Homo sapiens: one gene and its partners. The protein of the gene in region 2 interacts with the protein of the main gene of each other region in a pairwise test. Each region holds a gene or a part of one and is shown on either strand. Other genes may lie near its edges. The genes, in order: SLC22A23, CLN6, KIR2DL3 and EBAG9.

What was found.
Region 1: the proteins of CLN6 (region 2) and SLC22A23 interact in binary tests that used the Homo sapiens proteins (3 or more experiments, as listed by UniProt).
Region 3: the proteins of CLN6 (region 2) and KIR2DL3 interact in binary tests that used the Homo sapiens proteins (3 or more experiments, as listed by UniProt).
Region 4: the proteins of CLN6 (region 2) and EBAG9 interact in binary tests that used the Homo sapiens proteins (3 or more experiments, as listed by UniProt).

What each region holds. Positions count from the first base shown.
Region 1 is NC_000006.12:3,454,051-3,461,567, forward strand, and holds the start of SLC22A23 (solute carrier family 22 member 23), read right to left. Parts: upstream 3,001-7,517; 5' UTR 2,510-3,000; coding exon 1,856-2,509; exon of another isoform or gene 1,653-1,855; intron 1-1,652.
Region 2 is NC_000015.10:68,226,729-68,233,984, forward strand, and holds the start of CLN6 (ceroid-lipofuscinosis neuronal protein 6), read right to left. Parts: upstream 3,001-7,256; 5' UTR 2,857-3,000; coding exon 2,774-2,856; intron 1-2,773.
Region 3 is NC_000019.10:54,741,508-54,748,532, reverse strand, and holds part of KIR2DL3 (killer cell immunoglobulin-like receptor 2DL3 precursor), read right to left. Parts: intron 6,554-7,025; coding exon 6,254-6,553; intron 4,739-6,253; coding exon 4,445-4,738; intron 1,199-4,444; coding exon 1,148-1,198; intron 1-1,147. UniProt on the Homo sapiens protein: Receptor on natural killer (NK) cells for HLA-C alleles (HLA-Cw1, HLA-Cw3 and HLA-Cw7). Inhibits the activity of NK cells thus preventing cell lysis.
Region 4 is NC_000008.11:109,557,162-109,564,186, forward strand, and holds part of EBAG9 (receptor-binding cancer antigen expressed on SiSo cells), read left to right. Parts: intron 1-3,676; coding exon 3,677-3,768; intron 3,769-7,025. UniProt on the Homo sapiens protein: May participate in suppression of cell proliferation and induces apoptotic cell death through activation of interleukin-1-beta converting enzyme (ICE)-like proteases.

The DNA of each region.
Region 1 (7,517 bases), on a different chromosome or scaffold from region 2:
TTTTTGTCTGTGAAAATCAATATGTCCTTTCTAGGCTTTACTGTATAAGAAAATGTGTGTCTAATTATTGTTCCCAGGTTTCCCCTCTCAGTCTGGCCCAGTAACTGCAACGTGTCATCAAGCATCACCCAAAACATGCCACACACATGAGGGCTGTCTGTGACCCTCTCGAATGCTAATTTAGAAAAACTGCCCAGCTCTCCAATATGCCTCCATAGTCTGCTTTTAAGAACTATTTTTGTTCTCTCCTCCCACCGTGCATGGCTGAGTGTGAATAGCTGTTTCCTGGGTCCTCACTGCCAAGGTAATGGCACTCTATCCCATCTCATCACTTTCAAGTTCACCTCTACTTTGACCCCAGGACACAGCGCTCTTCACACATACTCACTTTGATCCATTATTCTCCCTCTGCTCTAGAAAGACACTTGAAATACTTAACAATGTTGCCAAATCCTCAGTCTGTCAGACATACACAGTGATTTAAATAGTCATTGTTCTTAATTTTTCTTTGCTGCTAAACCAACAAAGAAATATTGCCCTCCGTGAAGGGAAAACAGTCACAGAAACACCTTTAGAAAGCAGGGGGTAGGAGGTGGGTGGGATCAAGGTGAACCCAGCTAGAAGGACCTTCCCCATTACCTTGCAGGGCAGCAGGGGCAGCTCAGTCAGACAGTTCCCACAGGACAGAGCATTTCTGGCCAGGTTGGTACAAGATTAAAACAATGATTATGATGATGTAAGAGTTTATCTTACACATCCATGAGCTACAACTGTTAACCAATGCACACGGGGGGAGGAGGTTACATGCACATTGACTATTTAAAACTGTCCAATTTCATACATTTCGACAAAGCATTTAAAACTCTGCCAGAACAGCCCAGAATGGGTAGCGGGTGGGGTGGAGGAGAGTCTGTATTTACTTTAAAATGTGAATTAATTAGTTTAGACACAAGGAGCAAAACTACAAATGTCTTGATATCTCTTATATGTTAAGAATAAAATTACAGCTGTCTAGGGGCATTGAGTGTCCACCATTGCCCACTCTGTGTTTAGGCCTTCACACTTGTCTCACAACTCCCTTCTGCTACATTTCACACCACGCAATACCTCTGCAAGGGAGCTTTAGCTACAGGACTCAGAGGACAAGGTGCATGTTTCAGCTAAAGCACACCCCCGTTCTCAGTGCCTCAGCCCAAAGCAGCTGCTGTGTAAGAGCGGTGACGGCCGGGGAACACCCAAATGACATATTCTCCGCGTCCTTCCTATACTGTAGTGATGTTTACTGAAGTGCTGAGAAAACATGGGAGGAGACACTGGGGTAGCAAAGCCTAAAGTCAGATATCTTTGGGGAGGACTAAGCATCGGCTGCGGGTTGGGGATTTGCAGGAGTCTTTGCTTCTCTGGCTCTCCAGTTCTTTAGTAGGCTTTACCTGTGTCAAAATCAAGTGCGAGATGGAAGACTATTGCTTTGTGGGAGACCCAGGGACAACTAGCCGGGCAGAACAGGGCTGTGGTCCCGACTCCCCCAGCAGACCTTGAACGACGCCAGTCCGACTCCTCCAGAGGGGGCTGGTGACAGGTCAGCTGCCTCGCCCCGAGGGTGGGGGAAGGGCGCGCTTTCCATCCGCGTACTGGGACAGGAGTTTGGGTGCAAACTAGTAAAGGCTATGGTGCTCCCTTTACACCCAAGTAAAGGCATGTGGTTTGGGGGACGGAAGGAGATTAAGCCAATGCGGAATGCCCTACACACACTCTAGCACCACCACTTTGGGGACTTCGGTTCTCCCGCTGGCTCGGGCTTGGACCTCGGTCTGCAGGGAGAGGGTTGGAGGGACTGGGCGGCTGCGGCCCTTACCTTGCTGACCACGTTCTGGACGAGGCCGGCGCGGATGCCGTAGTCCCATGCGCGGCAGTCACAGTTGGAGGCGTTGTCCCCCTTGTCCGGAGGGGATGGCAGGGGTGGTGTGTCGCCTCCGTCCGCGCCGCTGCTGTTGCTCCGGTTGCCCGCAGCCTCCCAGGGGGCAGTGGCGAAGGGGGTGGTGGGGAGGCTGGTCCAGTTGCCCATGTCCCCGCCCCGGCCTGTGGTGGTGACCCCTGCCAGCTCGGTGCCTTTGCCGGCCCCGCGGCACCAGAAGTTGGGCTGGTCCAGGAGGAACGAGTCCGAGAACTGGCTGAAGCCGATGAACAGCGCCGGGATCCAGGTGAGCAGCACGAGGGTCTTCTGATAGCCCCCGCCCAGGCCCCCGAGGAAGGGCAGCACCGACCCGTCATAGTCCAGCAACAAGAGGCTCGGGGCCGCAGCCGCGGAGCAGCAGCTCGGGTGCGGGCCGCCTCCAGGATGCAGTGGGGGCAGCGGCTGGATCTCCGCGCCGCCGCCGGGGCCCGCGCGTCCCCCGAGGGGCGCCGAGGCCGCCGCGTCCCCGGGCGGCAGGGAGCCGTTCTCCTCGGCCGGGGCCGGCTGCCGCCCAGGCCCGCCGCCCGCCGCCTCGCGCCGCCGGTCTATGGCCATGGCCCGGGCCCGCGGCTCCCGCAGAGGCGCATAGAGCGCGGCGGAGGCTCCGCGGGCGCCCCGGGCACAGCGCGCCGGGCCAGGCGCCTGCAGCCGCTGCCGCCGAGGAGGGCCCGCGGCTCGAGAGAGAGCGCTCGGCGGCTCCGGGTGCGTCAGGCCGCCCCCATGTCACCCGCCGGACCCCGCGCCCCGGGCGCTGCGGCCCCGCTCGGGCGCCGGGCAGAGGCGGGCAGAGGCCGGCCGGGCCCTCAGCCGCCGCGGCTCATCAGTTCCGCGGCCCGGGCGCCGGCTGCCGAGCCCGCCGCTCTCCGCTGCTCCGCGCCGGACGCGGCAGGAGGAGGAGCCGGCGCCGCGCCCGGCCCGCGCCCTTGCCGGCGGTTCAGGGCCCTGCGGGCGGCGGTGCGGGCAAAGGCTGCTGCTCCCGGGGTGGCCGCGCTGTATTTCTCCGACTTCGGGCGCCTCCCGGAAGCCGCGAGCTCTGGACCCAGCCTGCCGAGCCGGCCGCGCTCTCCAGCTCCTGGAGCCGGCCCCACTCCTCCTCCTCCTCCTCCTCCTCCCCCTCCTCCCTGCCCCCCGGCCCGCCCCCTCTCCCCCCGCCGAGGTGGAGGTAACCGCGGCACCTGCTGCGCTCGGCTCCTGCTCGCGAGCGCCCCCTCCAGCCCGGACGCGCGGCCGCCGCCGCCCGGGATCCACGGGAGGGGGGCGGGGGAAACGGGACACCCCGGGCCCGCCTGGCTGGAGGATCCCCTGCCCGTTGCCCGTTTCGCGCCGGGCGGGGCGGGGGAGGAGGAGACGCGCGTAGCAGGGGTCGCCGGCCGGCGACGGGTCCCGGCAAAGTCGGCGTGCGCTGAGAACGTGTGGGCCGGGTCTTCTCTGAGGCTGGGCTCCCGCAGCCGCGCGGGCCCCCCACCCACTCCGCGCGCGCCAGGTCTCCGTGACCTCTGTCTCTTCAGAGGTGCCCGGCGGTCCCGCTGCCCGCGCCCCGCTCCCAGTCCCAAGCCCGAGGGTCTTCAGCCTTCGGGAACAACCCTCTGCGCTTTTTCCAGGAGCGAATAAGGTTGATTTTTGTGTCCGTGGAGCAGGGTCAAGGAGGCGCCTTTGCCAATTTCAGGTCGCCAGTCCCCCGCAGTGTCTGGCCACCTGCGACCCGCCGCACCCACTCCCAAATCGCCATTTCTTCCCCCACTCCTAAGTGCATGCGATGTAAGCACGATGCTGGGATATATCTCCAACACAAGTTATAATACACACAGTATAAACGTGATGGCATTCCCCACCCCCTCCCTAAGATCTTGTATTCACGTTTGGAACGCCGTGTGCACAGGCGCACACATCTATACTCTCACACAAGAAGACAAACCTCTCCCTCCTCTCCTGCTCCAGCGCCAACCTTGCCCAGCCAGCGCTGTATAAATAACACCAGCCCTGCGGCAAACGGCTACATTAGCATATTTCCTCCTGCACCCAGCGCACGCACCAAAGAGAATTATCCGGCACCTTTCAACCCAGCGTCCCCACATTTTGGAGGCATTTCATATTCTGAGAAGTTTATTAATGGAAGTCTTAAATGGAGCAATCCATTTCTAGTCTTATTTGGGGCAAAAAAAAAAAAAATGTTTAGCTTTCCAAAAGGATATATTCTAAGCTCCATATACTGAATGTATTCTTTTGCATTTTCATTATTTGCTCAGCTAACCGCTGCACAATTTAGTGGAATACATTTTTAACCTGCAGTTCAGTGTTAAGGGCAACATGTGTTTACTGCATAAAATGCTGGCACATACGTACCAGAGAACTATTTCTGAAGGCTGCCGGGGGGCGGGTCTTGGGGGACAGGGGAGGTTGTGGACCTTCCTGCGTGGCCGAGAAGGGGTGATTAGATAACAATGGGCGGAAGGGGCCCTAAGGGCTGCAAAAGACACCAGACCGCTGAGAAATGGGTCTGGAAACCACATATATAAAGAGCTGGGGGCTTGGGGCGGGGGGGGACACGATAGTGCACGTTGTGTACGTGGTAATTTTTCAACTTCACATTATTTATTAGCTTAACTTTTCTTTTCCTTCCCTCTCCTCCCCTCATTTGAAGAGCTAATACATGCAAAGTTCTGACCTCCATGCCTGGAACAGAGTAAGTGCGCAATGAATGTTAGACATGTATTATTACCAGTGCTCCTCTTGCCATTACATACAATCCACATTTCTTTTTGAATTGAAATATAACTTTACGGATTTTATTTATTTTCCTTTCAGTGGCTGATTTTCCAGAAGAGGTCCACTTTGTGTCTGGCTCTGCCTCCCTTCCCCCACAGTCACAAGGACCCATTTGTTTTCTTGTAACTGATCACAAAAGGAGCATTGCCATTGACCTTAATGGCCCTTCCAATCAGAATAACTATCATAGCCAGCGTTTCAGAGTTGGCTTTCAAATTCACACTCTCACTCAGTCCTCACATTCAGCGCCCCAAGAAGTGGGCTTTCAAAGAGAAACAGCAAGGATCAGGTGACTGACTACCAGATCAAAGAGTTGGTCCCCAGCTGAGCCAAATATCTGGTTTTGAACCCAGATTTTCTGACTGGACATTACCGGATTTCTCCATTTCATCATACAGGGGCAACTATAGGGAAGAGTTTACAAAGATGTTTGTTAATGTGCATTTTTACGTGGGAGAAGCCCTGGCCCTAGGAAAAGAGTTTCATTGTGAAGATGTTATTAGTCTTTGTTCGCAAAAGGTGGTAAAAATCCTCAAATGGTACATTCTTAGAATTTAGGGACACACTGGAAAATGGTATCCTCTAAAACTGAAGCTAAAAGGAGGCAACATAAAATGTTTGAAATTAACTAGCTGCAGCACTGACCCAGGCATTGTAATTAAGCTGTTGATTAGATTAGAGGTTTCCCTAAATTCCTCCTGGATTGATATTTCCACCAAATCTAGTCAAGAAGATTAAAGTGTAACTACTTTAAAATAAAGTGGCCTTCAATTTATTAAAACATACCACAAGTGATCTCATAACGTGAGCAAAAGGAGTAAAGAGGAAGAATTTGACACTCTGACAGCCTCAGTGGGTGAGGTTTGAGATCCATGGACCAGGATAGGAAAGCCAGACACCTGTTAAAAAATTACTGTTTTTAATTTTCTGAATGAGCATTATCATCAGCTGCTATTTTTCTTGTTTGCTTAGTTAGATTTACGTTCTGCCTCTAGAATGTAAGCACCTTCGGGGATAGGTGCCTTGTGCTCAGCTGTATGCTTGGTGGTTAAAACAGTGCCTGGTACATGCAAGGCACTCAATACATCTTTGTCAAATAAATGAGTGTATCAAGTTATTAATCACTTGATGATACTGTCTATTCAAATCATCAAACTGTTTACTTTGTTTCTTAAATCATCAAGCAACCTTTTTGTGTTTGTTCATCTCTCAAAGATGGTGCTCAGATCAGCCAACATGAGACTTGAAATGAATTTGACAATTATATGTCTTGTTGTAAGGCATTGTGGTTACTGGATTAGCTCCCAATATTATCTTCTCTTGGGCAGTATTGGCTTGCAGATGGTGGCTTATAGGCCAAATGCAGCTCACAGACCATAGGCAATGTTTTCAGGAAAATAATTGCTAACATTTCAAAATTGGGAGATTGAATACTTAGAAAAAAATGTGTTTTGGGCTTCTCTGAACATCATAGCAGAAGCCATTGTCCTTTTGATGCCCCATGTTTGCAGGACCGTGCTTTCTTGGACTGCAGTAAATGAGCAGGCACTCTCCAGCTTGCCCTCATCCCTGCCTGACACATGCCCCTCATGCATGACATTTGGCCCCCAAAAGTAGCTGTGTTTGTGACCCTAAATTTATGTGAGTATCCTGAACCCAGTGATCTTAATAAAGAAGCTGAGTCATTCCCTTTTCCTTTGAAAGTATGTTAAAGAATCTACCAGTTTATAGTTTTCTAAAAATTGAGAAAATAAGGAAAGGAAATGAAAGTCATAACCTAATCACCAATACATTTGAACAGTTTTATTTCCTTGGAGATAACAGGAGAAAAAATGTTTTAGCTTACCTCTAAAATTGATGGAAACCTAATTTTAAATCCTCTATAATTCTGTAAAAGTTAATTCTAAGGAATTCAAGTCAGGGTTAATTAACTTTAAATGTACGCTGCAAGTCATACCAAATGTATTTCACGTTGGTTTCTCTGATTATTCATGGTCTTTATACTTGAATTATAGATAGATATATCACATTTTAGAATATCCTGTGTCATTTTTTTTTTAAACTGCAGCTTGATTTCTTCCTTTCAAATAACTATTTGAAAATTAGGTTACCTTGATTTTGGGAGGGTGGGAGAAAGTGATTGAAATTATTTCCAACTCTAGTTGTGTATACTTGAATATTATTTATATCATCCTTTGCCTTTTGGAATATCAAGTCTGACTCTTTAACAAGAAATTTGACATTTACAAAACCTATCATAAATGAAAATGAAAAAGCTACTTTGGTTAAGTGACAGAAGTAATAAAAATGTCACATAATCTATCCTAAGGAAAGTTACAGGTAGTATCTTGAGAAAAACTACCTACTCATCTAGTACAAGACAAATTCATCAAAAGGCCAAGTGAAAACAGAAAAAGTGAAGATAAGACTTCTATGCAAAAAGCTACTCCATTGTAAATGTGATGGCTAGGGCCCAGTTACTTTCAAAGTTTGGTCAAAATTTAATTTTGAAGTCTTTTATTGAATTAAAAAAATTAGTGAAGCAAATCGATCTAAAATTTGATGTTGGCTTTTGTTTGATGAAAATCATAGATGTCATCTTTGTCTTACTGTACTTAAGAATGTTCTTTGGGCCAGGCACGGTGGCTCACGCCTGTAATCCCAGCACTTTGGGAGGCCGAGGGGATCACGAGGTCAGGAGATCAAGACCATCCTGGCCAACATGGTGAAACCCCATCTCTACTAAAAATACAAAAATTAGCTAGGCATGGTGGTGCGCACCTATTGTCCCAGCTAC
Region 2 (7,256 bases):
TGCTGGGATTACAGGCATGAGCCACCACACCTGGCCAGTAGATCGTATCTCAAGGGTCGTGGTTTAATTAATACATGCAAAAACTTAAGAGCAGGGCCTGATCCATAAAAAGTGCTAGTGTTTTTTATTGTTATAAACATATTATTTGGAAATAGGAATTTGACTCTGGAAAAAAGAGCTAAAAGAAGCTAGGGTGATTGTCTCTGGTGCTAGGGAAGAGTGGGACAGGGATTACTACTTTTTAAAACTTGAAGCCTTTGCTATTTGATTTATCACGGGCACTAATTATAATACTTTCTTTTCTTTTCTTTTTTTACTTTTTTTTTTTTTTGAGACAGTCTCACTGTCATCCAGGCTGGAGTGCAGTGGCGCCATCTCGGCTCACTACAACCTCCGCCTCCCAGGCTCAAGGGATCCTGGTGCCTCAGCCTCCTGAGTAGCTGGGATTACAGGCATGGGCCATCACACCTGGATAATTTTTGTATTTTTTAGTAGAGACGGGGATTCTCCATGTTGGCCAGGCTGGTCTCGAACTCCTGGACTCAAGTGATCCACCCACCTTGGCCTCCCAAAGTGCTGGGATTACAGGCGTGAGCCATGGCACCCGGCCTAATTGTAACACTTTCATTATAATACAAAAACTGGCAACAAAGCAGGTGGACGTTGGAATGGGTTACCTTAAGAGGTAGTGAGCAAAGCACGGATGCAGCAGAGGAAATCCAAGCATCCTAGGAACTGGACAGGATGATTCTGCCTACTCTCTTGAGCAGCAATGATACTGGGAATGGGCTGAAGCCACATTGTGGGGGGCAGAGACACCCTGGGAGACAGAGAGCTCCCACCCTCACACCACCCCCCTGGGAATACCCTGGCTGGTGGGGAGCTCACACAGGGGAAGAGGGACATGACTCCTTAGCAGCCAAAGTGGAGTCGTAAGAGCAGAGCCCGTAAGTCAGAAACCCTGGGTTTAGGCCCTGGTTCTTGCCAGCAAATGATGTAACCTCTTTGGGCCTCCATTTCCCCATCTGTACATTGGAAGTGACATCTGGCAGCTCATTGTCAAGACTGAGTAAGATGCTAGACATGGGAGCCCCACACAGGAGATAAAGTGGTGACCCTATCTGAGACCCACAGGCTGTTCCCATTGGGCTGTCACAGTTCAGGGCAGTCAGTGACCCCCAACTTGGCAAGGATTCGGAACAGAGACATCCCGCAGGCAGAAGAGGCTGCCTGGAAGAGGGGAGCTGGTAAATGGGTTGGGTCACAGCAGAGATGAAACCACTGGACACGGCGTGGGGCAGACAGCCCGGGGACTCAGCCAGTCAGGCTCCTCAGCCCATCTAAGCCTATTTCCTCATCAGTAAAATAATACTTAACTCACAGGCCGAGGGAGACAGGTGAGCTACAGTATGCGGTCTATGGCCAGTACATTGTTTCTAAGTGAAAACGGACACAGTCCGCAGCTGCTCAGCCCGCATGTCCGCAGCAGCAGAAACGAGCCATCCCTCACCTCAGCCCAAGCGCTCAGACTTCTCCCTTCATCCAGGTCGTACCAAAAACTTCCTAACAAGGACTTTGCGCATGCTAGTGCTCAGAAACTTCTCACGACTCCCCAGTGCCTATGGGATAAAGACTGTGTCCTTAACCTGTCACCTAGGACAGGAACTAGGGTGAGACAAGCAAGGCCTCCAAGGCCCAACATTTGAGGCGGCACTCACGGTCACGGCAGTGCGCCTACCCCTAAGTTTTGCAATCTAGGTCCTCAACTCGAGTCCTAGACTTGCTGCAATTAAAGGCCCTTCACAATCAGTCTGCATCCTCCTGTCACTTTCTTTTACAGCCGGAAAGCTCCAGCACCACTAAACTCCTTGCCCTTCCCCACTGTTTCCCTGGATGGAACAGCCTGTCTTCCCTGGGTCCCCTACCAAGTCCTCTGAGACTCAGCTCAAGTGCCACTTCCTCCATGAAGCCCTCCAAGATGACCGCTCACTCCCACTTGGGCTCTGTCTCTCCTGATCCCTACAGGACCGTAAGCCTCTCCCACCTTCACCCTGCCTACCCCCTTACTGCCTGGCACAGCGCTGGGCATACCACAGGCGCTTAAAGAATGCCTGCTGAATGCAGTGAATGTTTCTGGTCAGTAAAACGGGACGAAGGTAGAATGGAGCTCTGCTCGCCCAACGAGATAAACCAAAAACTGAGAAGGGCTCCTCATTCATTCTCTGGACGGCAGCTTCCGCCCTTCCCCGCTGTCTCTTCCATTACATTCGCACATTCTTGGGTGCCCCAGGTCAAGCAGACAGCCTCCTGATAAATGACAGAATCAAGTCCTACTCAGGGCTGGAGGGACCCCGAGAACGCGGAGGTGGCGCCCGGAACTTGCGGATAAGTTGGGGGTCCGAGTGACGAGGTGTGTGTACCCACCGCCCTGGGGAGCTCTCCCAGCGCAGCGGCTGTCCCGGCGCCAGCCCGGGTCGCTGGAACGCGGGAAGGGAGGAAAACCCCAAACTTCGGGCGGGCGCTCCTCCCACCCGAGCAACGGCGAAGCGGGGAGGCCGAGCCCCGCTGGGCCCCAGGCTCCCCAGACAGAGAAGGAAACGCGGGGGCACCGCCGCCACGGTAGCGCGCCTCCAAGCCCCCCGCGCTCCGCTCCGCCCCGGCCAGCGCCGCACACGAGGTTCCCGCCCGGCAGCCCTAGGAGCGTCACGTGGCGGGTCCCGAGGCCCCAGCGCACAGGCGCCTAGCCCGCCCTCTCACCCCGGCGCGCGCCCACCTGGCCTGCAGGAAGGAGGCGCCCAGCTGCGCGCCTGGGCCGCCCGTCGCTCCCAGGTGCTGCCGCCTCCGCGTCGCCTCCATGGCTGCCCCGCAGGCCCCTCGGCCCTGCCTTTCCGAGGAAGAGACCGGTTCAGCTCGGCTGCCCCGGCGGAGGCCGCCGCAAATTCCCAGCGCGGGGCGGTTCGGGGCGGGCCGGCGAGAGCGCGCGGCCCTCGGGAGGAACAGGCGGGGCTGCGGACCCGGGGCGGGGCGGAGCGGAGCGGAGCGGAGCGGAGGGAGGCGGGGCGGAGGGAGACGGGGCGGGCTCCGCTAGGGGAGGGCCGGGCGCTGCGAGTGTGGCGTCCTCGCGGGGCGGGGGCTGCTGGCCTGTCCGGGCTGCGCGCGTGACCACCAGCGGGCTGGGATGTGTTAGGGTCCCTTGCCTGCCTGGGTACGGGAATCTCTGTCTAGGGTGACTGAGGCCTGGGTGTTGGGCTGGGGCGGGGTAGCGACCTGGAGATAGACTAAGCTGATTTAAATGCTCCCCGGGGCAGAGGGTTCTGTGGGATTTCCCTTGTTCTTACGGGTGGAGGAGAGGAGGCAGGACTGGAGACCTGCACGTGTAGCACCCGCGTGGTGCAGCACGTGGGTTGCAGATGTTCTAGTGAGGGGCTGGCGGTGACAGTGGGAAGGAGCGAGTTGGTGACATCTAGAGTCGTGTGAGAGGTATGGTGACTGGGACTCTGGATGTGGGGGGTGAGGGGAGAAGAGTTCAGGCAGTGGCCGGATTCTGCCCCTGGGTGGATAGTGGAGGCACCCCCCGGGAAGTGGGCTAGAGCAGATTTCGTGTAAATAAAGATTCATCTTTGAACGCATTAAGCTTGAGGTGGGTCAGGAAGGCTGTTGGACCGGTGGTCTGAAGCTGAGGCGAGACCTGGGAACCCAGTGGACAGGCTCGTGAGTCACCGGAGCATACAAGACAGACAGAACCTAAGGGGACAGCATCCTCAAGTGAAAAACAGAACCAAAGGTCAAACCTGAGAACAGCCTGCAGGGCAGATTGCCAGGACTTCATTAGTGGTACCACTTTGAACTAGCTGTGATGCGGGCAAATGGCTCAACCCCTCACAGCTTCAGTTTACTCATCTGTAACAAGAAGATGCCTATTGCATCTACTACATTGGAGTTGTGATGACTATATGAAACTCTTAGCAGAGAGCCCAGCACTGGTGGACTAAGTTATTTACAATAGCCCGTCTCGAGACCTGAGGTTTCCCTCCACAGAAAGGTTACCTTCCACACCACTGTCAATGTCACAAACTCTCTCCTCCCCACGGTCACTGTCAGCAGCCCAGGCCGCTAACTAGAACAACTGCAACCAACTCCCATTCTCCCCACCACCCCCGTGCTACACCAGGCGCACACGACATGTGCAGGTCTCCAGTCCTGTCTCCTCTCACCCAGCCCTCAAGCCGCTGCAGAAGGGATGTGCCTCTTGGAAGGGATGTGCCTCAGATGCAAATGCAATGTGCCATTCCCCTGCCCAGTATCCTTGGTCTGCTTCCCAGACCATGAGGGGTCTGAGCTATGCCTATTTCCATTCTATTTTCTTTCCTGTCTTTCTTCTTGGGAGATGTTTATTGGATTTATTTCTTTCCCCTTTGGTCAGAACCTGCATGTCCTTTCTTGGCTGTGGGAGGCTAGGACTGCCTGCCTGGGAGTCATTTTCCATCAGCCCCATCCTGGGCTCTAGCAGCCCACAGGCCACACCTCAATCCCCCCCCTCCGCCCCTGGTCCCCTGAAGAACACATTTGCTTTAAAGCTTTCCTTGTTTCATTTGATCCACACACACCAGGTCGTAAGGAGAACAGGTGATTGTCTCTGTTTTGTAGCAGAGAAAAACCTAGGCCCTGAGCTGAAGTACTGTGCCCAAGGGTCAGCCAAGGACAGCACTCAGACGGGGCCCCAGATTTAATTCTGGTGAATCTGATCTACACATCGATCTCGGTATACACCAGAGAAGAAGGATTGAGGCTTCCCGCTCTGACCCCAATTTCTTATCCTCTGCAGGCTTTGCAAGCCTGCTGGGCTCCAGAGGGAGGGGCATGCAGTGCCCATGATGTCATCATCGATTTAATAACACTCAGAGGTGGGCTTCCAGCCATCAGAGGATGAGGCCGTGTGGAGGGAGCCTCTCTAGCTCATTTAATCCTCCAATCTCTTAAATACAAACACATCTGCCTTTTTTCTGGAGTCCGCTGCTACCCCTTGAGGGGAGGGGAGTCCAACCTGGCAGGGGGCTGGGCCTTTCTGAATGAACAAGATGAGAATTCTCCCTGTCCGGTGGGATTATCAGCCCCCTCTCTTTCCCATCCCACCAGGACACTTTAAAAACACCATCTTCATTAGCTCTTTAAATTGCATGGAAATTTGGGGGAGGAGGATAGAGTAAAGCTGAGGGGTACACATTTGCAGGATCTTGTTTGTGATTATCTGAGAACATGGGCCCTGCACATCAGAAGGGAGTCTAGTCTCAGCTCTCTGAGCTGCAATTTCAGTGGCCAGCATCAAGAAATCTTTCAGCTGAGAAGGTCCTTTGGTATTATGCATCTTGGTGGTTTTGACTTTTCTTTTAGTAGAGGTTCCCACTACTTTTCAATTATAGCTGTATCCGATATTTTTTTTTTTTTTTGAGACGGAGTCTTGCTCTGTCGCCCAGGCTGGAGTGCAATGGCACGATCTCGGCTTGCTGCAACCTCTGCCTCCCTGGTTCAAGTGATTCTCCTGCCTCACCCTCCCAAGTAGCTGGGACTACAGGCATGCACCACCACGCCTGGCTAATTTTTTATATTTTTAGTAGAGACGGGGTTTCACCATGTTAGCCAGGCTGGTCTTGATCTACTGACCTTGTGATCTGCCCGCCTTAGTCTCTCAAAGTGCTGGGATTGCAGGCGTGAGCCACTGCACCAGGCCTGTATCAGATACTTTTAAATGTATCGCCTAAGATCCGTTAGACACACCAGTCTTCCAGCTCCTTGCCACTTGTTTTGTCCAGCTGCTGTGACAACTGACTTCACCCAGGCAGAAGTCAACTGCACCTCCTCTCCCCTTGGCCCCACACCCTTGGCCTCAGAAGTGCAGGAGTGTTGGACACTCCATGGAGTGAACTTTGACCAGCAAGAGACAGGGATTAGCAAATAAATTTTTCTCTCTTCCTCTTTCTGGACAGACTGGCCTGAGTTCCGAGTTCACACAGCCACTTTAAAGAAGGTCCTGGGCCATGCGCAGTGGCTCACACCTGTAATCCCAGCACGTTGGGAGGCCAAGGTGGGTGGACCACGTGAGGTCAGGAGTTCAAGACCAGCCTGACCAACATGGTGAAACCCTGTCTCTACTAAAAATACAAAAACGAACTGGGTGTCGTGGCATGTGCCTGTAATCCCAGCTACTTGGGAGGCTGAGGCAGGAGAAATTGCATGAACCCAGGAGGCAGAGGTTGCAGTGAGCCGAGATCACGCCACTGCACTCTAGTCTGGGCGACAGAGCAAGGCTCAGTCTCAAAATAAATAAATAAATAATAAAGAAGGTCCTGTAAGGTCTAGCATCCTTCCAGACGGAGTGGTGGCCAGCTCCGCAGTGCACTCTCTTGTGTGCCCTCCCTTCTCCTCTGTCTCACTCCCCCTTGTCCTCACTTCCCCTTCCCAGCCACCACACTCCCCAATACAGTGTTAGCATACATGCTGCCCTGCTCTGCTTCTTTGGAAACCTGGGCTAAGACAAAGATCTTTCCAGCATGCTCAATGTATGAAACACCTACGGGGGGGTGGGGGGGGTGGTGCCCTGAGTGAAGAGAAGCAGGGTCCCAGGTGCCATCTCTTCTCCCCTTATGGTTACAAGGCCGTGGCCAAGTCACCTCCAAAGGGCTCCCTGGAAAGCCTTTGATCTTGCCTAATTTCATCATTCTGCAGCTGCGGAAAATGAAGCCTAAAGCCACACAGCGAGTTAGAAGCCAAGCCAGGCCAGAATCCAGTCTCCACTCCTAATCCAGTACCCTTTCTATCCAGTCTCTTAAGAGCTTTTGAAAATTTCTCTTTCTTCAAAACATCTTCCCACACTGCCCTGCCACCAGAAGGCTTTGAAGGCCCCTGCTAGACTGCAGCTACCATCTGAGAGACATGACACACAGAATCCTGGATCCAGAGGCTGGGACTCCAGAAGGCAGACAGACGAAGTGGGACCAGGAAAACTCAGTTACTTTGGAGAGAGGCAGCCAGGAGGGGCCTGACTAGGGGATCTCTAAGTGTGGGCAACAAGACTGTGCACAGTGAGAAGGCTGCACAAGGACAGACAGCAAGGGACTGGGGCACTGGGGGAAGATGGAGACTGTCTTTCTGTGTCAACTGGTATTGCCTGCAGGACACTCCCCATCTGGCTGAAGAAGCTGGGAGGGTGACCAGAAGTCACACTGTGGGGAGAGAGAAGGTCCCCAGGTTGTGTTTAA
Region 3 (7,025 bases), on a different chromosome or scaffold from region 2:
CCATCTGCAATATCAGTGTCCCAAGGGCAGAAGCCAAATGCATCTTGTTCACCGTTTGTGGAAGGCAGGAGAATGCTGTCCCACCCCAAAATGTCCCTGTCCTAGCCTCCATAGCTTGTGAATATGTTATTTTACATGGAAAGGAGGAATGAAGATTGTAGATGGAATTGCGGTTGCTAATCAGCTGAACTTAAAACAAGGGTATCCTGGATGATTTCCAGGAGATTATGAGGGATTTTCATCTTGGTGAACCCAATAGAATCCCCAAGTTTTCAAAAGATAAGGAAGAAGGGAGAGCAGCATTCAGAGAAAGAGGTGTGGTAAGGAAGAAGGCACTGAGTGATGCCATGTGAGATGTGACCAGTCTTTGTGGGCTTTGAGGAAGGAGGAAGGGGAACAGGAGCCAAGGAACTGGGAGCCTTTAGAAGCTGGGATAAGTGAGAAGCAGATTCTTGCCTGGAATCCTCAGAGGGAAGGCAGCCTTGCTGTCACCTTGATTTTAGCCCAGTAAGATGCACTTCCTACTTTGAGCTACAGCACTGTAAGATAATTAAAAAACCGTTTTGTTTTCACCCACGAATCTTGTGGAAATTTGTTATGGCAACAATAGGAAAAGGTTCCGCACTGCACAGCCTGAGCATGGGGCCGTGGCTGAATGAGTCAGTGAGTCGAAGTGTGCGTGCATGAGCTCCGTTCTCTGTTACGGCAAGGCTGTTGCTCTGCTGAGTCAGCCAGGGTTGCTTCATGACCAACAGTAATTCATTCCTTGGCAAGTGGAACTTCTCTAAAACACCTCGCCCTCATCAGATGTTCCCTTCCCTTCCCTCTCTCAAGCCCCCAGGAATTTATCCTCCAGTTAGGAATGCAGGCAGAACAAACATTGCATTTTTCCTGAGAAGGATGTCAGATTGGCAATCATTCTTCTAGCTTGTAGGAGGTCTCAGCTCCATAAAATGAGAGATTAAGAGATTTCACTGAGCCCTAGGTTGGGCCCAGATCCCTTTCGCTGTTGGAGTATCTGGAGTTCGGAGATGGTAGAAGACAGGCGTACAATGTCAGAGCTGCGAGATGCTGAGTCAATGCCTGCATCGAAGGTTTCTACCTCCCCAGGTTTCCAAAAGCGGATATAAGAGGGTTCTGTACTCACCGGTTTCGGAGCTTGGTTCAGTGGGTGAAGGCCAACTATTTGAAGGGTTTCCTAGAACACGAGACAGGAGAGAGGTGAGGAAATGAGGGTGTCTGTCCTCTACTCAATGGAAATCTTTGAGGTTGGTTCATGGCCAACACTCTGTTATCTAATATTGGGCCCTGGGAGTCCTGGGATCCTTTTTTCCGTAATTTTTGTATGTGACGCCCACTGTCTTGAGACTTCAAGGTATAAAGAGAAAACAGGAGCATCACACTACCTGATCTCAAAATATGTTACAGAGCTGTAGTAAGCAAAACAGCATCACATTGGCATAAAGAAAGGCACGTAGAACAATGGAGCAGAATGAAGAACACAGATATAATCCATGCATTTACCTCCAATGTTTTTTTCTTTTTTCTTTTGAGATGGAGTCTCGCTCTGTCACCCAGGCTGGAGTGCAGAGGTGCAATCTCGGTTCACTGCCACCACAGCCTCCTGGGTTCAATCAATTCTCTGGCCTCAAACTCCTGAGTAGTGGTATTACAGGTGCTGACCACCATGCTCAGCTAATTTTTATATTTTTAGTGGAGACAATGTTTCATCACGTCGGCCAGACTAATCTTGAACTCCTGGCCTCAGGTGATCCACCCGCCTTGGGCTCCCAAAGTGCTGAAATTGCAGGTGTCAGCCACCATGCCCAGCCCATCCAATGGACTTTGACAAAGGTGCCAAGAACTCACAATCAGGAAAGGACAGTCTTTTCAATAAACAGTGCAGGGAAACCTGGACATCTACATGCAGAGGAATGAAACTGCACCTCTACCTGTCACTATACACAAAACTCAAATGAAAATGGATTAAAGATGTGAGTCTAAGGCCTGAACCTATGAAACACGTAGAAGAAAATATTGGGGAAATGCTCCAGGACATTTGTCTGAAGGAAGACATTTTGTTTTAAACCTTCAAAACACAAGTAATCGAAGCAAAAATAGACCATTGGGATTACCTCAAACTAAGCAACTTCTGCACCGCTAAAAATAAACCAACAAAGTGAAGAGACAACCCACAGATTGGGAGCAAATATGTGCAAACTATGCATCTGAGATGGGATTAATAACTAGAAATATAAGAAGCTCAAACAACTCAATAAAACAAACGATTTAATTGAAAAAGGAGCAAAACACATGAAATTTCCCCACATACTAAAAAGTGCTCAGTTTCACTCATCATCAGAGAAACACAAATTAAAATCAAAGTGAGTTTTCATCTCACCCCATTAAAATGGATTTTAGGCCGGGCGTGGTGGCTCACGTCTGTCATCCTAGACCTTTGAGAGCCTGAGGTGGGTGAACCTCATAAGGTCGGGAGTTTGAGACCAGTCTGACCCACATGAAGAAACACTGTCTCTACTAAAAATACAAAATTTAGTTGGGCGTGGTGGCGTGTGCCTGTAATTCCAGCTACTCGGGAGGCTGAGGCAGGAGAATCGCTTGAACCTGGGAGGTGGAGGTTGTGGTGAGCCGAGATCGCACCACTGCACTCCAGCCTGGGTGACAAGAGCGAAACTCCATCTCAAAATAAAATGAAATAAAATAAAATGGCTTTTAGCTGCAAGACAGGCAAAGGAAATCCTGCCAAAGTGGTAGAGAAAGGAGAACCCTAATACCCTGTTGGTAGGAGTGTAAATTAGTACAGCCTTTACGGAGAAAAGTGTGGAAGTCCTTTAAAGAACTAAAAAGAGGTTGGGTGAGGTGGATCATGCCTGTAATCCCGGCACTTTGGGAGACCGAGGCGGGCACCTCAGTTGAGGTCATGAGTTTGAGAGCAGCCCAGCCAACATGGGGAAACCCCATCTATACTAAAAAAAACAAAAAGTAGCCAGGCATGGTGGCGTGCACCTGTAATCCCAGCTACTAGGGAGGCTGAGGCAGGAAAATCATTTGAACCCAGGAGGCGGAGGTTGCAATGAGCCAAGATGACTTCACTTGTACTCCAGCCTGGGCACAGAGGGAAACTGTCTCAAAAACAAAAACAAAACAACAAACGAATAACTAAAAAGAGAACTTTCATAGTATCCAGCAATTTCACTACTGGGTTTATATCCAAAGGAAAGTAAATCAATATATCGAAGTGATATCTGCACTCGTATGATTGGTGCAGCACTGTTCACAGTAGCCAAGATGTGGAGTCAACCTACCTGCCCATCAGTGGATGAATGGATAGAGAGAATGTAGTACATACGCACAGTGGAGACTACTCATCCATAGAAAGAATAACATCCTGATATTTGCAGCCACATGGATGGAACTGGAAGTCATTACAAAGATTCCCATTTCTCACCCATATACAGAGCTAAAAGGTGGATCTCATGAAGGTAGAGAGTAGAATGGTGGCTTCCAGAGGCCAGGAATAAAAGGGTGGAGGGTAAAAAAAAAAAAAAAAAAAAAAATATATATATATATATATATATATATATATATATGTTTATATATGTGTGTGTGTGTGTATATATATATATATATATATATATATAAATGTATTTATGACCACTAGACTTTACACTTAAAAATGGTAAATGTGGCTGGGCGTGGTGGCTCATGCCTGTAATCCCAGCACTTTGGGAGGCAGATGCGGGTGGATCACGTGGTCAGGAGTTGGAGACCAGCTCGACCAACATGGTGAAACCCCCTCTCTACTAAAAATACAAAAAGTAGCCTGGCGTGGTGGTGCGCGCCTGTAGCACCAGCTACTCAGGTGGCTGAAGCAGGAGAATCACTTGAACCCAGGAGGCGGAAGTTGCAGTGAGCTGAGATTGTGCCACTGCACTCCAGCATAGGGGACAGAGCTAGACTCTGCCTCAAAAAAAAAAAAAATGTTAAAGGTGGTAAGCTATATAGGTATATTTATCCTCAATAAATATTTCTTCAAACAAAAGTAAAGGGTGTAGGGGTTGCTGGTGATGACATCCCTGTGTGGGTGAGAGGCCAGGATGGGCTTCTGGGAAATGGGTAATGTTGAGGGGCTGAGGGAACCTCTGATCTTCCCAAACTGAGCCCAGTCTCTCTCCTCTGGGTCTCTCCTGACCGTTTTCTCCATCTGCCTGTGTGCCTGGAGCCCTGGCCGCGGGCCTTCATGCAGGCCGTGTAGGAGGGTTTGGAGGTGCCCTGTCTGCCATCCTGTGCCCTGATCCCTCCCTCACACCCAAGCTTCGTCTTCTCTCTGCATCTGTCCATGCTTCTCTCCATCATCAGCAGGAAGCTCCTCAGCTAAGGCTCTAGGATCATAGGACATGAGACAGATATGGGGTTTCCTCACCTGTGACAGAAACAAGCAGTGGGTCACTCGAGTTTGACCACTCGTATGGAGAGTCACGGAAAGAGCCGAAGCATCTGTAGGTTCCTCCGTGGGTGGCAGGGCCCAGAGGAAAGTCGGCCTGGAATGTTCCGTTGACCTTGGGCCCTGCAGAGAACCTACGTTCATGGGCCTCCCCCTCCCTGGATAGATGGTACATGTCATAGGAGCTCCGGGAGCTGCAGGACAAGGTCACGCTCTCTCCTGCCAGAACCGTGGGGCCCGGCTGGGCTGAGAGAGAAGGTTTCTCATATAGACCTGGAGGAGAAGAGGCATTTTCCTTACGGAGGATCTTCCTTGTCACAGCTCCCTTCACCTGAGCTGAGAACTCACTCCCCTGCTCTATGACCTAATGCTCTCTCTCTCTCTCTCTCTCACCCTCCACCCCATCTCTCTTCATGTCTATTTCCTTCTTCCACCTTCTCTGTCTCTCTAGGTCTCTGACCTCGCTTCCCCACCTCTAGATATGTTTTCCCTTTTTGGATTCTTTTATTCTCTCTGACTCTCCTTGGATTGGTTGACTTGATGTTACTTTTTTAAATTCTAAGTTTCTCACGTTGTGTCCTGTTCATAACTTTCTGCATATTTCTATCTATTATCTGTCGATCTATCTATTTATCTATTCGGTGCCTATCTACAAATTCTCTACCTGTCATCTATATCTATATATCATCTATGTATCTATCACTTGTCTATCTATCCATCAATCATCTGTTATTTATATGTATGTATCATCTCTCTCTCTATGATTTCTGTCTGCCTCTCTATCTGTACGTATTATCTGTCTTCATCATCATCATCTCTATGTATTATCTATTAATGAATCAATCAATCATCATCTATGTATCTTTAACCTATTATCTATCATCTACCTATTTATCATCTATCTATATCTATCCATCTATCATCTGTCTTGCTCTGCCTCTCGGTCTCTCTAGTTCTCTTTGGAATCTCTGCAATTCATCCCCACATCTCCATGTTTCTATGTCCTTGTGCCTCTCTCTCAGGACTCTAATTTTAGTGCTTTTCTCTGCTCCCTGCCATCATTCTCACCACTCCTCTGCCCTCTTTTCTCTCTCTTTATGTGTCTGTGAGTCTCTCAATCTCCTTCCTCTGGCTCATTCTCTGTGTGTTTATGTCTTTGCTTTTTGGTGTTCCTGATTTTTCTCTGTGCCTCTCAGTGATCCTTTCATATGTGGGGTTATTTGGAATGTGAGCCACAGAATCCAGTCTGGAGACCACAAGTTCACACAGCATACAGGGGTTGGTGTTCTGGGGCCATGATATCCTGGGACGATTACTCTCCATTACATGGAAGGCAGAGGTGTCAGAATAAACATGGCCTGTAGGTGCCACAAGGCCTGAGGCCACAGGGCCCAACTCAGGTCATAAATATGGGTGTCCTTGGGTTCTCCTGGTAGAGAACACTTTGTGGAGGTAAAACAGAAATGAAACTTCTAACCTGTGCCAGGTCTGTGAGCAAAGTCAGCATGGAGGGACACCTCTCTCTGGGACATGTCTGTCTGTCTGTCTCTTTTAACTCTTTCTGTCTTTTCTAACTCCCTGTATGGCCCCTGTGTCTGTCCTCTGTTATGACACCTGGTCTGTACTTGTGTCTCCTGTTTCTCTGTCTCTGTTGGTACAAACCTCAGCAAGTCAGTCTCTCTCCATAAGAATACCAAGCTCATCTTCCTTACAACTACCTGGGGGTTCCAAGTCGTGGATCATTCACTCTGCATCCCAATGACAATGAGAATGTCCGGACACTCTCACCTGTGATGACGATGTCCAGAGGGTCACTGGGAGCTGACAACTGATAGGGGGAGTGAGTAACAGAACCGTAGCATCTGTAGGTCCCTGCAAGGTCTTGCATCATGGGACCGATGGAGAAGTTGGCCTTGGAGACCCCATCATGGTGCTCTCCAATGAGGTGCAAAGTGTCCTTAAACTTCCCTTCTCTGTGCAGAAGGAAGTGCTGAAACCTGACATCTGACCAACATTGCAGGATGACTGTCTCTTCTGATTTCACCAGGGGACCTGGGTGGGCCAGGAGGGAAGGTTTTCTGTGGACTCCTAGGAAGAGAGGTTGTGAGTTTAGAAGGTGTCTCTCTTTATCATCCCATCCATGGCACCTAGAATGAGTGAGGCTTCCCCTTGCTGGTGTCTGTCTCTCTCCTTCCTCTCTGTGTCTTCATGTTCTTTTCTGTGCCCTTAACTCCTGGTGCAGGTCCTTCCATCTGTCTCCCTCCCTCTTCTCTGTCCCTCTGTCTCTAGTAGCCTCTGATTCCCTTCCCACTGGGCTGAGCCTCATCTCTTGGGGTGTTGTATCTATTTCACACTAATGTATTTCCTGCTGTTTATGTGGGGGTGAAAGAGGAACCAGGATAGGCTGCACATCCAGGCTCTTATCAGCCTGGTTCAATCTCTTTTGGATGAATTGCAATCCTTGGCAGAAGGTATGAACTGATGAATAAGGCAGGCACCAGTGTCCACACACCCTGTTCCTGGTGGGGACTGGGAGCCACTCTTGCCATGCCTGTGCCTT
Region 4 (7,025 bases), on a different chromosome or scaffold from region 2:
TTTAGCAGTTTGATAGAAGTTAATCTGGAGTTTTACCAATCCTAACCTTTTATGAGATTGTAAATTACCTTAGATACTAAGATCAAGGTCTCATTGTACACATGAAAGATAGAGATACAATGTTATTTAAAAATATAAACATCAGAGAGATTACCATTAAAATGAGAGATTAACCCTAATGGTAGATTATTTTAAAGTGAGTTATGAATTGTTTTCTTCATAGAGTGTATTTTCATTCAAAGTATGACTTAATTTTAAACGGTTTGACTTAAATGAAACTTTTTAAAGGAAAAATTTATGAAACAAGTAGACAGCTGAGGTTCTCAACCTTGGGAGCATATCAGAATCAGCTTTGGAGGTTTTTTAAAAGCACAAATGTCCAGACCCCTCCCTACCTAAGCTTTAAGCATGCTTTGATTGATTGATTATATTATCTGTTGTTGTGTAACAACTCCAAATTCAGTGACTTAAAATAATTACAAATATTAATGTAACACAGTTTCTGTGGATTGGGAATCCAGGTGACTAAACTGGGTGGTTCTAACTCAGAATTTCTCATGAGTTTGCAGACAAGTCATTGGGTTGGGGCTACAATCATCTGAAGGCTTGATTGTGGTCGAAGGATTCATTTCAAAGACAGCTCACTTCTACACCTGACAAATTAATGCTATTTGTTTGCACAAAGCCTCAGTTCCTTGCTGTGCACCTCTCCAAGGAGCTGCTTGAATTTCTTTATGATGTAACTCCTGATTTTCCCAGTAAGTTATAAGACGGTGAGAGCACTTGCTCATGGGTGAGGGTGACACCACAATGCCTTTTTGTGATGTGGTTTTATAAGTGATACACTGTCACTTCCATGTTATTTCATTAGAAGCCACTAAATCCAGCCCACATGCAAGCCTCCACCTCTTGAAGGAAGGAATGTCAAAGAATTTGTGGACATATTTTTAAATTACATCTGTCTGTCAATCTATGTATTTTATTTGTTTGTTTAAACTGCACAGTTGCTTCTGAGGTCCCTCTTCCCAGGGGACCCATGTATATGTATGTTTTTAATTCATTGAGTAAAAACACTGTTTTTACTAAAGCCAGGCCCTGTGGCATTAAAGGGTCTTTGCCTCAGAAAAATGCATTCTAGTAGGGGAGACATGATATTAAATGAATGATCACACACGTCAATATAATTACAAACTTTGATAATTCCTATGCAGTTACACGATGCTATGAACACATAACACCATAAATACTTAGCTGAATAACATAGCATTATAATGTTTTTTATTTTATATATCTCAAAATTAAATTTTATTCATAAATGTTTGATCCATATTGGTGAAATGCTTTAATCCCACCCACTGAATTAGCAATATTTGCCACCTAAATATAATTATAATACTATCATAGCTCATTGTAAAGTTTTAAATATACAACTACTTACAGAGTTGAGAAGGGGTAAATAGGGTAGATGGAGAATGTCTCCACTGCTATTTCCACGTATTTTCCTCCCAAGCAGACAGAATAAAGGGGCATTGCATAGGAGAGGATGGTAACCTATTGGACTTTGTTTTCTATACCAAAAATATCTTACCATTCATTCTACAAATTAGATTCTTCTTTTAAACTACACATTTTATTCTTTTCTAGAATTCATCATTCGTATTGTTGTGAGAGTTCTTTTATACCAAAGATAAATGTCATGTTTTATACTTTTTTAGTTTGTTAATTGGTTTGGATATTTTTGTTGGGCAGGTGTATTTAGTTTTTATGTAGACAAATCTATCAATGGTTTCCCCCTTTTCCTTTTTACTAAGGCCATCTCTACTAAAGGATCAGATACCACCCTTTTTAATGGTCTCTATAGTTTTACTTTTTAAAAAAAATCTAAATATTTTATGTACTCTAACAGTCAAATACTTTAGTGGAAGAATAGATAATATGAATGGGAAATTTACAAATAAGAAATAGACATAACCTAATTTGAAGAAAAGCTTGATCTTATTAGTGCTCAAAGTAGGCCCAGTGAGGTGTTACATGCCTGTAATCTCAGCACTTTGGGAGGCCAAGGCGGGCAGGTCACTTGAGCTCAGGAATTCGAGACCAGCCTAGGCAACATGGCGAAATCCCCCCTCTACAAAAATTAAAAAGTTAGCTGGGTGTGGTGGTGCGTGCCTGTAGTCCTCGCTACTTGGGAGGGACTGGGGTAAGAGGATTGCTTGAACCCAAGAGGTCGAGGCTGCCGTGAGCTGTGATCACACCACTACACTCCAGCCTAGGTGACAGAGTGAGACCTTGTCTCAAACAAAACAAAGTAAAATAACAAGATACAATTTTAAATCTTGTCAAATTAGTAAAGATAGAAAAGAAAGCCAGCCGAGTGCAGTGGCTCACACTTGTAATCCCAGCAATTTGGGAAATTGAGGCAGGAGGATCACTTGAGTTCAGGAGTTCAAGACCAACCTGAGCAACATAGCTAGACCTCATCTCTAAAAAAATGTAAAAAACAATCAGCCAGGTGTGGTGGCATGTGCCTATAGTCCCAGCTACTAGGGCAGCCGAGGTGGGAGGATCCCTTGAGCCCGGGAGTTTGAAGCTGCAGTGAACCATGATCACACCATGCACTCCAGCCTGGGCAACAAAGTGAAACGCTGATTCCTAAAAAAAAAAAGGGAGAAGAAAAGGCAGGATTTCTACCTACTGCGGTCAAGAGGATAACTTGGTACTTTTCAAGGCTGTCATTTGCACTTTGTTTCAGTAGCTTTAAAAATCCTCCTTTCAGAAATGTATATTAAATAATTAGAAATATTTTAAGAATTTTTAACAGAGTATGGTATTACATATATTCTCAGGAGAAGAAAACTCAAAACATTCTATTTCATTTTTAGGGGTAAGTATTTAAAACAATATGATATTAAATAAATGTGTTCACAGATTGGTACCAGTTATTTTACACACAGTCACTTCCACACCTACCTAAACAGTCCAGCATGACCATTTTCATTGGTTATTGAAAGAAAACAGTGAACTTTTAGAGGTCTGGCTTGGGAAATAGAGGTAGGGACCAGTAGATGATACCAGGTAAGAAAGACTGGGAAAAGGAAGCATGACCTAGAAGTATTTCATTAAAGATAAATTTTGCATGATTTGTCATTTTTGCCTAGGATTGAGACAGTAAGTGCCAATAAAAAATCTCCAGTAAGTTACATATGCTTAAATGAAGAATGACTGTGCTAGTTTTTGAACTTCAGCTCGCAGTTCTTCTCAGCACAGATTAGTCCAGTCAAGGATTTCTAATTCAGTCTGGGATCAGTCAGTTTCTTGTCACTCTATCCCCAGCTCCCTCATCTTACTGAGGAGAGAAAGAAACAAAAGACATGTTCTGTTCTTGTTCCTTCCAAAATAAAGTACAGCAAAGAAGAGAATTTAAGAGAGTATCCCATGAAACATAAAGAAGAAAGCTGGCCTTGCCTAGGACTGTTGAACACTGAAAGTCATACATCAGTTCTAGGCAAGCCAAAAGCAAAATCATCTGTGCCTTGTATAGGACAGGGTAAGGAAGCTGAGAAGACATAGGAGAATGACAGGTTCTGAGTTATGTGTTAAAAGATACTCTTTTTAACGGCTATGTGGAGAAAGGATGGCTTTTACTCTCTTAATTTTGTTTTACTTTTCATTGTAGTCTGAATTAGGTGACTTAGATACCTGGCAGGAAAATACCAATGCATGGGAAGAAGAAGAAGATGCAGCCTGGCAAGCAGAAGAAGTTCTGAGGTATTTGAGTGGCATTTATATTGCAACCTGAGTAGAAGAACTAGATTTCTTCCCTGCTGTGTTTCAAGTCAAGGGAGCCTATTTTGCCAAATATTATATTTTTCTTCATTTGATCCTTAGATAATAAGGACTTTTTTTTTTGTATTTCAGACTGCAGATACTATTTTATATGATTAAAACCTCACAGAAACCAAGAATTTTAAGCTCTATAGGAACAAAATAACTTTATTAATGGCAAATGGAGTGTTATATATACATGTATATAAAAGGTTTTATATATATGTTTTATATATATATATATAAGGTTATATGCATATACATACCATATTACAAGCTTGATATTCCTCTAGGTCAGAAGTTACAACTTTATTTCCATTTCCTCATGATCTAGCATAGTGCCCAGTACTGCTCATTTGAGTGAAAATAACTTATGTGACACTCTACATTTGTACATATATCTTAAATGATGTCCATGAAAGCCCTATGTGTTAGATGAACTACCCATTCTGCAAAAAAATACTATTCTGGAAGTTTTAAAGTTCATTTTTATTGGTTGTTCTTTTTTGTGTGTGAGCAGCAAACATATTTCTTAGTACTGCTACATTAGGTCAAAGAGTAAAGAGAAAATTTATCTTAAGGGAGAGCTAGTGACTGATTACTGCTTTTTAAAAGTCAGATATTTAAATGCATCTAAAGAATTCATACATTTTTTAAATTGTGTAGTAAGATACAGCAATATAAATTTTTTTATTTTAAAATTGAGATTGTTTTTACCATAGGAATAGCAGACAAATTATTCTTTATCTGACTCAACAAAAAAACTGATTTCATTTTTGTATTTTCCTTTCTTGGCTTTGTCAATAAATTACAGTTACTGTGAACAACCAGCAGAGGGTGCAGCTAAATAACTGGGAATTTTGTTTGAAGTTTTTGTTTTTTTCCTTTGAAATATATCAAGCCCTTTTTTTTTTTTTTTTTTTGCAGGTTAGGGGACGTCACATTTCAAAATTCAGTCAGTAAAATTGTGAGAGTTTTTAAAATTTAGTTCTTATTTAATCAGTATAGCTTATCTTTTATAAAGGGAATATTTTTTAAATTGTGAACTATAACACTTAGGATATTGCATGGATCATCAAAAAAGATAAATCATCTCTTTAAAATTCTGTGTTATTTTAAAAAACAAATAATAGATACAGATGTCTGAGTATTTTAAGACATTTTGGGGATTCTAGTAATTATTAGTGCCATTAACCACAAAGACAAAGGAAGGGGTCTGTCCTTTTTAAATACAGTAATCTCACTGTAGAGTTCAAGCCATGAGTTCACAAGTATCTTAATATTGTACAAAAACCTTTTCTTTTTCATTCTAGCCTCTTAACCCCTAAGCAAAACAAATGAAAAAATGTACTTAAAAACTTAATGTTTTACCCTTTAAGGACAGCTTGGGAGAGTGAGATTGTTAATCCGTAATAGACATGCTTCATGCCGCAAGTACATAGGTAGAGCCAAAGAGAAATGGAGGTGTCAGTACATTGTTACTGCCCCTGAATAGACATTGAGCATTTTAAAAGTGTATCCACATTCCGTATTGTCTAACTCTGAGCTTTTTTCCTGTTGCCACTATAAATAATGCCAGTACTGTGATCAGTATTGCTAAGAATGAAGATTCTGGTACTTTAATAATTCCCAGCATGAATCTGGATAGGTAAAATGTATTTTTGTCTGCAGCTATCTCGTAAGTTGTCTCTTTTATACTTTAGTTTTTGATACAGATTGGGTATCCCTTTCCAAAATGCTTGGGACCAGAAGTGTTTCAGATTTTGAAATTTTTGAGAGTTTAGAATATTTGTGTTCTGCTGCTAGTTCATCATCCCAAATATGAAAATCTAAAATCTGAAATGCTCCAATGAGAATTTCCTTTGAGCATCAGGTAGGCCCTCAGAAAGTTTCAGATTTTGGAGCATTTCAGATTTCGGATTTTTGTATTTGGGATGCTCAGCCCTTATATTATTTCAGCTAGTAACCAGGTCAAAACTTCGTTATCTTACTTGTTTATAACCTAGCCAGCCCTTTATAATTTTTTCTCTACCTCCCTTTTTTCTTCTGGTTTGACATTTTTAGTTCAGATTATTAGTTTTTATTGAACATCAGCAGAGTGATGAAAAACAGATTTTTTAAAACTATTCTTCAGAAATTGATAGCAAAAGTCAAAATGTTGCCAAAAATAGTTTCTTTACTTTCTTGAATTTTGGTCATCCATAACTCTGCCTACTCCTGTTTATGACTGAGAACTGTACATACATTTCACTCACTGTAGTTAATATTGAGCTCCCCCAGACATAGATAATCCACTTTGGATTTTTCTGCATATAACCTAATGTTGCCTATTCCATGCCCAATTGTGACCTGTAGCTTCCTTCCTCAACGTTGCATACTTGAATGATTTTCTCACACCCTAACCCTTCAGATCCAGGACCAATGTATGTTTACTCTGCTCTCTCCTGTTTCATCATCCCACTCCTACCTCCACTCCCTACATTAACCAATCAGTAAAGATAGAGAGAGTGAGTCTGGGTCAGTGGAGTTACGGAAAGAGTAAGGAACAGGTATGTATTTCACAAAGTATGATTAGTAAATACCTACCACTCTTTTTTTTTTTTTTTTAAACTTAAGTTCAGGGGGACATGTGCAGGATGTGCAGGTTTGTTACACAGGTAAACATGTGTCAAGGGGGTTTGTCGTACAGATATTTCATCAGCCAGGTATTAAACCTAGTATCCATTAGTTATTTTTCCTGATCCTCTCCCTCCGTCTAACCTCAGCCTTTCCGGTAGGCCCCAGTATGCATTGTTCTCCTCTATGTGTTCATGTGTTCTCATCATTTAGCGCCCACTTATAAGTGAGAACATGCAGTATTTGATTAAATACCCACCACTCTTCTCTTTGGTAGAGTTAGTCACATGTTAATCCTGAAATTTACTTGGTGGAAGGTGTATCTTAAGTTTCCATTTTCTTTTTGGAGCGTGTGTTCTGTTCAGCTGTGTTCATCATGCACTTTAAAAACTGGCTGTTTGTAACTACTATAATAACAGGAGATTATCAAGCTCAATATCAAGCTTTTCTGAATGGTATCCCCAGAAAAAGATGTGGTTCAATGGAAGTATTGTTTTACAAAATGGAGATAATCTAAATAAGAAGTGTCAGAAGATGTGAGTTCTTATCCCTGTACTTAATCCTATGACTTCGGGCAAGTCACT